Linked DNA regions of Homo sapiens: region 2 is linked to region 1. Evidence: fine-mapped expression QTL. A gene starts in region 1. The other region holds a variant in brackets. All regions are shown on one strand. Distances are from middle to middle. Region 1 holds the start of PLPPR1 (phospholipid phosphatase related 1). Region 2 overlaps PLPPR1 (phospholipid phosphatase related 1).

What was found. PIP is the estimated chance that this variant, and not a neighbour inherited with it, causes the effect. A credible set is the group of variants that fine-mapping cannot tell apart.
Region 2: its variant is the best candidate, but not a certain one, in a credible set for the expression of PLPPR1 in lung (TOPMed, PIP 0.63).

Annotation. Positions count from the first base shown.
Region 1 is chr9:101,025,992-101,031,376 of GRCh38, reverse strand. It overlaps PLPPR1 (phospholipid phosphatase related 1), which reads right to left and starts at 2,650. Exons shown (of 8, transcript NM_207299.2): 1 at 2,275-2,650.
Region 2 is chr9:101,181,874-101,187,209 of GRCh38, reverse strand. It overlaps PLPPR1 (phospholipid phosphatase related 1), which reads right to left. Exons shown (of 8, transcript NM_207299.2): 2 at 1,653-1,760. The coding sequence starts at 1,715. Among named protein-coding and RNA genes, the nearest start is that of PLPPR1, 160 kb to the right of the region's middle. The variant C/G (reference allele first, on the strand shown) is at 2,296.

The sequences.
Region 1 (5,385 bases):
ACATATTTTATATGACTTCCAATGCTAAATACAGGATAGGTGGTCAATAAATCCTTGTAAATAGAATCTAGTATAATCAAAATAAACTGATCTTGCAGATGAAGGAAGAGGAAATATATAGTAACAAAGCAAATAAAGAGCTCTAGTGAAAGCAAAAAATATTCTTGATCTTTTCTTGCCAAGGTTTTCAAAGAAAATGATGAGAGTGTTCACCATGGGATAAAAAGGACATATGCTGACAATTATAGTTAAATCCCCTCTATGCCAATTTCACTTGAAAATATTCCTGGAAAGGTCTTTACTTCCCTAGTTATTTGAAAATAAAACACTCAGATTTCTATCTTACTGAATACCTTTAAAATCATAAAAGCGAAACTATTTTAATAATAAGCATCCCTTTCCCAATTCCCCCCCACCCCCTGCTTCTTTTTTTCCTTTCTTAAAAAAGCTTTTCACCTTTGGCTATGCTTACTTATGAGTGAAGATCACTTTCATAAGTCATTTCTCAATTAATCTCACAAATATCATGCTTTCTCCCACTTCAAAGAAGTCACAAAATGTTAAAGATAAAAAGGTCCCCATCCCAAGCAGCAGAGAGACTCCCCAACCTGTCATCTCAAAGTGAAGAGAAGCCCTCACCCCCACCCGTGAGGAGCAGCAGGCATAAGTACTGGATCTGAGCTTCCGGAGTTTACTTCTTTCAGCATCAGCTTGGCTTCCAGATTCCCCATACACTTTTCCTAAAAATACAAGGCTCCTGACGTGCACAAGAGCCAAAAATGTACCTGTCTGCCCAACCCGCCTTTCAGGTACAACCAACACGTCAAGATGGAGAAACTTTCACACGAGGCACTTTCTAGACCTAAACAACTAATTTGTAAGTATGCTAAATGTTATCCCAGAAATAGTGAAGTCTTTTACGCTCCAGATGTGACATTCTAGACACCTCAAAACTAGCGTCCCACCAGAAGAATAGGAGCTGCCAACCATACAAGCAGAAGGGGCATAGAAATTCAGTGAAGGCTGTAGTGTACGTCCCCTCCAGTCAACCTCTTCCTGCCTTCATTAACCTCTAGTCACACCTCTCCTAAGTGACCATTATTTGTCCCTCTTCTATCTCCCTTTGTCCCAGTCCTGGACTCCTCACAGGCTGACCCAGTCTCTGCTGTTTCAAAAGGCCATTCGATTTGACGCTTTTCCCGGGTGCAGCGGGTGCACTGCACTCTGAGATCCCGCCCCAGTAGTAGAAAGGATTTTAGGAAATCCTTTTCTCAGGACCTTTTCCGTCGGGCCGAAGAGATATTCAGAACCGTGCCTGTCCACCAACTAGATAGCAGACACCACAGAATCTCTCCCAGGAAAGAGGTTGAAAGGAAAAAAACCCGACATCCCCACAAAGAAAAATAATAATCCAGAATCCTCCACATATTCCACACGTGCGTGTCATAAAACCCTTGGGAAATGGGTTGGGAGAGGATAAAGCCCCGTCTTCCCACTGCCGCCGCCGCAGCAGCAGCCCCTGTTCAGCTCCCAGCGCTGCCGCGATGGTGTGCGTGAAGACAGCACCTTCCCTGAGGAGGAGAGATCCTAGCGTCCTCCGTTCTAGGAGGTGATTATGGCAAGCCTGTCAGTAACTCATCATTTATCCCCGCACTGACCCGAGCCTCACCCCGGCGCCTTTGGCACCGGAGCTCGATGAGAAAGCCGAAGGCCGCCCCTCCAATTTTCCAGGTGACACACACACCCCACTATGCGCCTAGGACGCAGAGGGGTGGAAGGGAAGGATGACAGGTGCCCATGCCTGAGGGAAAATCAATGGCAACCCTTACAGCTTGGGGTGAGAAATCTCAACCCCCGCCCGGGTGGGAGGACTTGGCATCAGCTACCTGCAGGGCGCCTCCGCCTGCACACCCACCCAACGCGTGCAGGCTCGCGTTGCAGCCCGGAATGCAGTCAGGAGGGTGGAACGGGACGGAGGGAGCCTCCACGCCCCCTTTGTCTCCACGTTTCCCAGATGACATGGAAGGAAAGTTTATGAGCAGGGAGGTGGTAGCTTTCTGCTGGGTCAATCTGACACCTCGCAGGAGGCGACCCTCCCTGGGTTCGTCCTCTCCTCTGCACAGCCCCAGCGCCGCCTTCATCTGCACCTCGACACCCACAAGCAAGGCATGGGACACCTGCGCCGCCGGGTCCGGCCAGGAGCTTGCCCCGCGCTGCCCTACTGCCCCGGTGCAGAGACTTCCCCAGCGGCCCGGCTGCGGGCGCCGCACTCACCTCCCGCAGCGGAGCGTCCTCCAGTGCGCCCTACTGGGCCGTCCGGCTCCCGGGAGCGAGGTACATTCAGGCGGCGGTCCGAGACACGCTCTCCAGGCGCTGCTGCATTCCGCTTGCGTGGGAGAGCAAGCCGGCGAGCGAGCGGCGCGGGCGTGTACGAGTGTGTGTTTGTGCGAGTGTGTGCGCGAGTGTGTGTATGTGTGTGTCCGTGTTTGTGCGCGCGCCCGTGGGGCGGAGGTGCGCGGGATCACAGATGCCGCTGGGCGCCCATCCCGCGCTCTGCTTCCTCCGCTGCCTCCTCCTGGCGCTGCAGCTTGCACAGGGTCCAGGTTTCAGGATCTCCTGTTTGTTTAATGAAAGGAAAGAGCAAAAGGCTGGCGCGGAGGGGGCGGAGGAGGGGAGAGGCGGGGAGGGTGCCGGGCTGCGCATGCTCAAGAGAGACTCAGCTCTGGCTCCAGAGCCCAGACAGAGCAGAGAGAGTGAGCTCGGGGTAGAGGCAAGCCAGCCAGATTGCGTCCAGCGGCAGTCGCTCCGCGGGGTTCCCAGAAGGCAGCGGGGAAACCCCGCCGCAAAGGTGCGCCCTGCGCGGGGACTCCGCGGCGCATGCAGAGCTGGAAGCCAGTGGTGGGATCCCCACCCATCCTTGGAGACCGCTTCTGCCTCGAGTCCTCGGTAACGTGGGGCTGTCCTCTCCCGGTGTGGTTTTAGCGCTGGCGCGGGCGTTCCTGTGGGCCATTCTCTTGCTTTCTACCCTGCGGGCAACCGAGATGCGTCTCCCCAGAGGTCCAGGAGGAACCACAGGCTGCAGGTCGCCCCGAACTAAAATGAGTTTCCTGGTGTGTGCTTCTTTCTTCCCCTCCCAACTTCCACTCCTTTAAGAGCAAGAAAAGGCAACGTCCAGTCGGGTCCCACAACAGCTTTAATGGGGCGAGGGCGAGAAGGGGGCTAGCGATAACTCTTCCAAACAACAAAGGAGGAGTGGAAGGAAGGTGAGTCTCTGAGGACCCCATACTAAGCCTCCTTTGATGATAGGGGTAAATGGAAGAGATATTTGCCCTATTTAAGAAGGCAAAAAAAAAAAAAAAAAAGAACAATGGGTTCATTGTCCCCTTGCCTAGAATGCCAACGCAATTCTAGGTCTTTGTGAGGCCTCTGGCTATTTGGTAAAGTGGGAGAACTGTCAACTCGAAGAGAGTCCAGTAAGAGAACCTGAGCCTGCTATGGCACAGTAACCTGAGGCCAGGGGAGATGGCAGGTGAGAGTCGTTGCAAGTAGAGTGGAAACTTCTTGGATCAGATTGTTCTGTGAGCAAAACAGAATGGTTAGGATCCATTCAAGAGCTTCTATTTTCAATCTCTTCCCTGTTTAATCGTTCTGTCTCCCCACACACCACACCCCATTTTCTTTCCTACAGAAGAAAAGACATCCCAAGCAGGAAACTCCCTGTAAAGAGATTTCTACCTCCTTTTTATTCATTTTCTGTCCCTCCAGAAAAGGATAACCTTTGGTCCCCTCTGCTTTGGAGGAATAGAGGACAGCCTGCCTTGTGCAAATCTTTTCCAAGCTTTCATTAAAGATCACCTCTAAGCATTTCCACTTTACAGTGGAAGCGAGCAGATGCCTTCTTGCTGAACTCTGACCCACATACCATTCATCTTCCCAATAATAATGCCAAGTGACACTCGAACAGCAGGACAATTAGATCAAATCCTAGAGCACACCCAGAGGAGAAAAAAACAGCATGTCTAAATACCACCAACAAAAGTTTAGGAGAACAGACTTAGAGGAAGGAGAGAAAAAAAGGAAAGTTCTTAAAAAGAGAAAGTGCCCTGGGTGTAGTGGCAGGTTTATTTTCTCAGTAGATCCTTGAAAGAAGTAGAATTGCAGCATCTCTTTGCTTAAAGGACAAGTGAGAGTAAGTCTCCATCCACCAGGTAGGGGAGATCAGGTTCTCCTGAAGAGCAGCAAAGCCTCTATAGTGAACCATGTAGGGTATTTGGAGCTCCTCCTTCCATGCCTGTTTATATCAGGACTTCCCTTTGGTGCTCGGCTTCTTGGAAGGCATCCAAGATAGATCTGCCTTGTTGTCACGTTCCCCTCAGAACAGTAAACAGTGTTCACTAGAATTGCAAGGTGTTAGTATTGGTAGGGCCAATTGCTTCCTTGAGGCAAGATAGCCATTCTCTTTGCCCTGGTGCGTAAGCACAAGGTGAGTGACGGCTTTGAATTCATGAACTAAGAGGGGCTGGGGTTTACAGTTCACTCAATAGGAGACAATTCTAAGGCACTTCCTCCTACAATGATAAGTATCCAGGGTTGCCTGGCCAAGAAGCCCACTCTATCTGAGCCTGGCCTTGGGTGAGAGGGAAAGGGATACCACTCCCCTCAATGCTTAGGGACCATCTCTAAGCAGATGGACCTGTTCGCCATCTCAAAGCAGAAAGTAGCTCCAACAAGGTGAAGGGTGAAGGAGAATTTTTAAATGCAGAATTGCAAATAAAGTGAAATCTCTTTATGGTGTGTCTGCTAGGAGATGGTGAATGAGCAGTTCTGGAAGAGATTTTTACTGTTTGGGGACAGTAGGGAAAACACAGGGACATTAAGTGAGATGATGTACATAAAGCACTTAACATAGTGCCTACTGCCTAACAAGCTCTGCATAACCTGTAGCTCTTATTTTGGTTATTAATATTTTCATTATTGTGATAGTTTATTTTTTTAAAAAGGCTAAGAAGCTCTTTTTTCCTTAGCTTAAACAAGCAAAGCAGATTAAAGCCAAAAGCCTTCCAGTTTTTCCTTCTGGCTTCCTCCATCGCCCCCTCACTCATCACCCTGATCACTGATGTATTCAAATCCATGTAATGAAAAGCATGCTACAAAGATGTGTGGCAGTGTGAATGGGGAATAGCTCCAACTCTCACCCTTCCACCCACAAATCTAGACGTAAGTGTGAGATAGCTTTGTCTTTCAGTAACATGCCTCAAGCACTTTTTGCCACTCATGTCTCACAGTGATTAAGGACTCCTGCCTGGCAGGGTCTCTTGCTATAACACCCCACCTACATTGGAATACCAAGCTTTGTATTTTCACTTTTTTTTTTTTTTGCCTGCC
Region 2 (5,336 bases), 160 kb before region 1:
TGACTTATTCCCTAACTTCCCGCAGCCTACTTAAAAAATTATTTTTCATATAACAAAAGAGAAAGCAAACACTGAAAAAGGTACTGTTATTTTACCTTCTAACTTTTTCGCATAAGCAGCAGGAAAAATGATTTTTTCCCTTCACCACAATATTAATAAGAAGAATCGTAACCAGAACCCACAATATGTATAATTATCACTATTGTCTGAATGGAGTTATTTTGGCATCGTATAGCAAGTTAAATGCAAAATATTAAGAATATGTGTTTCTTGTTGAATGATGAGTTCTTTGTTTACCCATTCAGATATTTAGCTTAAATTGAGTCTATATGTAACTTCGCTTATATTAACATCTCTGTTCCAACCTTCTCTCCTATCTTTACCTGGTTCTGCAATATGAACAGATTATCAAATATCACCAGAAAATAAGTTATGAAATATTTGTTCATCTAAAAGTACCAAGCAATGTCTATAAGGTGAAACTCAATGATCAGCCAAACACCCATATATCTGATCAAAAATCAGAATGCTCAAAATTATCTGACTATATAGGCAGGTAAAGTTATTTCAAGTTGGAGAACATAAAAGTTCTTGTCTAAGTGTTTCACAGGATTTGTATAAACAACAGATGTACTGAAAGTACATTTTTGCTAATATGAGTAGTAGTTTAACCCAACTTTGTTTTTATATGGATAATAAAGTAGATCAACACACATTTCTCCCACAGTCAGCCTAAAAGATGCCGTAAGAAAGAATATGCTACAGCTCACCCCTGGGATGTGGAGACTATCCTTCAGTTACCCAGACAGAAGTTCAGGATACTTACTTTTCAGCTCTTTACACTGTCATATTTTAGGTCTGATCTTTAGGCTAAAAAAAAACCGATCCACTAGACGCCCTATTTTCTTGATAAGGCAGATACAATAACATCTCTGGCAAATCAACATCTTATTTTGAGATAACCTAGAAAGCAGTTTTTTTCCGAATTTCCTAAAAAATTCATGTCTTTGTCTCCTCTATAGCAAACATAGAAACAGAGGTAGAGTACAAAAGGAGTTCAGGAAATTTAACCAAAAAGGTGCTGGAAAAACTGCTAGTACAAAGTTGGAGCAACTGAACAAAGTAATTCAGGACAAAAGAAATCATACATTGCACAAGCTCCCAATACTCTACTAAAATGTCCAGAGGAGATAGTAAACTCTAAGATTATTTTTCTTTATTTGGGTTCCAAGGCAAAAGACCATGAACTAATATCATCTGTAAAATGCATGGATTATTGACTTCCTGAAACAGGATATTGATTTTTTAATAAAAAAATTAATTAAAATGCTTCATTCTCTTTCATAGTTAACATTCACATCATTGTCGAAAATAGAAGAAATATAATAAAACACAATATTCATTTTATTATATTTCTTGGATATATTAATTTGGATATATTATATATCCAAAGGTGAAGTTTAAAAAATTCTTACTCTATGACTTCCTATTTAAGAAACACTTTGCATAGTTTATTAATCTTTACCAATATTTGTGCTATCAAAATTGACTTACCAATCATAAAATTAATTTTATAAAATAATCTAAGTTATCAGAATAAAAACTGTTACTTTTATTTCAATTTGTCCATAAAGGTTAAAAAATACACATACCTCAACAAATATAAAACACGGGATGATGGAATAACTTCGTTGAGTGTTGTTTCCTACAGCCATTTCTCACACCATATAGCAAGACTGCACCGTCAAAAACTGTCCAGGCTGAAATAGAAATAGGTTGCATAGTATAAGAACCATATATTGAGAAGTCCCTTAGGTACTTACATAAAAATATCAGCTACTAGATATCAGCTTTCTAGATAAGCAGGCTGTGTGCAAAAGCAATACAGTGATCTACAACACAGTCAAGTCAGACTAATAATCATTCCAATAAAAAGCAAATAATATATACTTGCCATGAATAGTTTTACAGCCAAAATGACCAGGTCAGGAGCCGCTTGTGCACATAGCTAGTGAATAGAATTCTAATTGCCTAGTACTGCATAGTGCCTTACCCCAGTAGACTGCCCTAATGCCATGAAATACAATTTTTGGTATAAAACTTTTTTTTCTTGTCCATCCTGCATGGATCTCTCTTACTTGTTCCTAATCCTCCCAATTTGCAACCTAGAGAATTGTCTGTTTATGCTCTGGTCTCTCCCTTTGAAGCTGACACTTAGTACAGAGCCACCAATCCCTGACTTCCTTCCTTGACCATTATTTGTCCTTGCTCTCTTGAATACACAGCCATGAACAA[C/G]TTCAGGTTAATATGTCACCGATCTGTTTCACTGGTTCCCCTCAGCCCTGTGTGTGACCCAAACATAAAACAGTAAAGGCATAACACATTTCATTTAACTTATAAGACATTCACTTAGCTTACAAGAATGGAGTAGCTGGGCAATAGCAGATTGTCATTAAATATTTTATTAGAACACATCTTCCCTGCCTTGAACTGAAAATATAATTGTATTAGGAGATTAGTTAGTTTTGATTCTTCTTAATACAATGAAGTAAAGATTTTAAGCTTTAATGAAATTTCCAGTCCAGAGTTTTAAAAATCCAGTACATTTTTTATTCTCTAGCCAAAGCAATACTACACATTTCAGATATCTGCTCTTAAAGTCATTATTTTTCATTTGTTCTGTTTCTCTGTCATCCCTACCAACAGTTCTTGTAGATTTTGATTACAGTATGAAAGGTAACATAGGAAGTACCAGTCTATTTGAATGGCCAGCTGTACTTTTTAAAAGGTCAGACATTAATTTTAATGTCTTCATTTCTATCCTTCCTAAGTTTCTTTCTGCCCTTTTCCAGAATGAAACTTTAAAATACATATCCTTCCCTTTTGAGATATCAACTCCTCACTTGTCAATTAAAAGTTTCTCTGATCAAATTTAATATTATGTGCTTTATAAATCCATACCAACCACAGTATTTAAGTTTTAGGCAACTTAATTTTTTTCAATTAAAATTGGATATTTTCTGTTATAAAATCATACCCATACTACATGTGTTATTTCACCATTATATTTTAGGATGTTATTTTCTACAATAAGAAAGGAATCTATATGTAGAAAACACATTGAATTGATTGGATAACCATCATTTTAAAATGGACAACCATTTTAATTTTGCCCTTACTTAACCCAAATATCTTAGAATTTACTTAGTATTTATGATATAAATGAACTTTCCTGTTAGCATCAGCCAAATACAGTGTTGTATATCTGAAAAGAAAATTAAATATTAATCATGTTCAAGAAGGCAGAGGCACGAGAAAAAGCAAAGGCATCAAACACCTAGTGTTTTAGATGGCTTCTCCATGTAATTAATAAAGAATAACAATAAAGTGGAGAATATAAGACAAGCTTTAGGATACAAAATTCCCCTCTATTTTCATTTTTCTGGTCCAAAATGCAACCAAGCTTTTTATATGTATATGGCTACACACACACACACACACACACACACACACACACAAAGAGACGGGAGTAACTACAGTGAGGTATATTTTATATATACCAATTCACTCATTTTAAGTGTACAATTCAATATTTTAAATAAATTTACCAAATTGTGCAACTTTCCCATAAGATAGTTTTAGAACTTTTTAATCACCCCTAAAAGAATTATCATGTCTATTTACTGTTAATTCCCACCATCAACTCCTTCACCATATCCCAAAGCCAGGTAATCTGCTTTCTGACTCTACAGATTTGCCTTTTCTGGATATTTTAAATGAATAGAATAATATAATACACGACCTCTTATTTCTGCATTTCTTCACGTAGCATATTTTTGAGATTCATTCATGTTGTTGCACATTCAGTAATTTTTTTCCTTTTAACTGCCGAATAATATTCCATTGTATGGCTATTGCACTTTTACCAGTTGGTAGACATTTAGATTGTTTTGAATTTTTGGCTATATCCAGTATTTGGTTGTATTCAATATTATGGAAAACCATGCTAATAACATCTGTGTGCAATTCTTTGTGTGGATTTATATTTTCATTTCTCATGGATATTAGACACCTAAGAGAGTTGCTGGGTCATACGTTAAATTATGTTTAATTTTTTAACAGCACTACTAAAACGTTTTCCAAAGTAGCTATATCATTTTACATTCCCACCAGCAATGTATGAGAGTTCCCATTTCTCCACACTGTCATTGACATTTTTATTGTTTATCTTTTTTATTATAGCTATTCTACTGGGCGTGAAATGATATCTCATTGTGGTTTTAATTTTCATTTTGCTAATAAAAAATTATGTTGAGCATCTTTCCATGTGCTTATTAGCCATTTTTATATATTCTTTTGTGAAGTGTCTATTCAAATACCTTTTGTGGTTGGGTTGTTCGTCTTATTATTTTCAAGGTGTAAAGGTTTTTTGTACAGTCTATATACAAATCTTTATCAGATACATATTTTCAATATTTTCTTCCAGTCTTTTGCTTACGTTTTAATTTTATTTTTTCCATCTTTTTCATTGATTGAGGTGAAATTCACACAATACAAAGTTAACCATCTTAAAGAATACAATTCAGTGACATTGAGTACCTTCACAGTATTATGCAACAACCACCAAGTTCCAAAATATTTTTTCACCCCAAAAGCAAGCCCTGTTCCCATTAGCTGTCTCCCACTTTTCTTTAATTGACAAATAATAGTTATATATATTTATGAGGTATAATGTGGTGCTTTGATTTTTATAATATGAAATGATTAAATCAGCATAATTAACAAATGTATCACCTCAGGTACTTATTTTTACTACCAAAACATTTAAAATCTAATTTTATAGGAATTTTGAAATATATATCATTATAATCACCATTCTGCACAACAGATCATTAAAGCTTATGCCTCCTGTCTATCTGAAACTTTACACCCTTTGATCAACATCTTCCCTTTCTCCATCCATCCCCCTCTTCCAGCCACTGGTAACCATCATTCTACTCACTATTTCTATGATTTCAACTTTTTTAGATTCCACATGTAAGTGAAATCATACGGTATTTGTCTTTCTGTTCCTAGCTTATTTTACTTAGCATGATGTGCTCCAGGTTCATCCATGTTATTTCCCCCTTTTTAAGGCTAAATAGTATTCCATTACAATACTACATATATATGTTCACCAAATAGTATAGTAACACTATACTATATATATACTACCTAGGTGTCAATTATCAATGAATGGATAAACAAAATTTGGTTTATGTATGTATGTGTGTGTATATATATATACACATACACACTATATATATGTGTATATAAGTATGTGTGTATATATATGT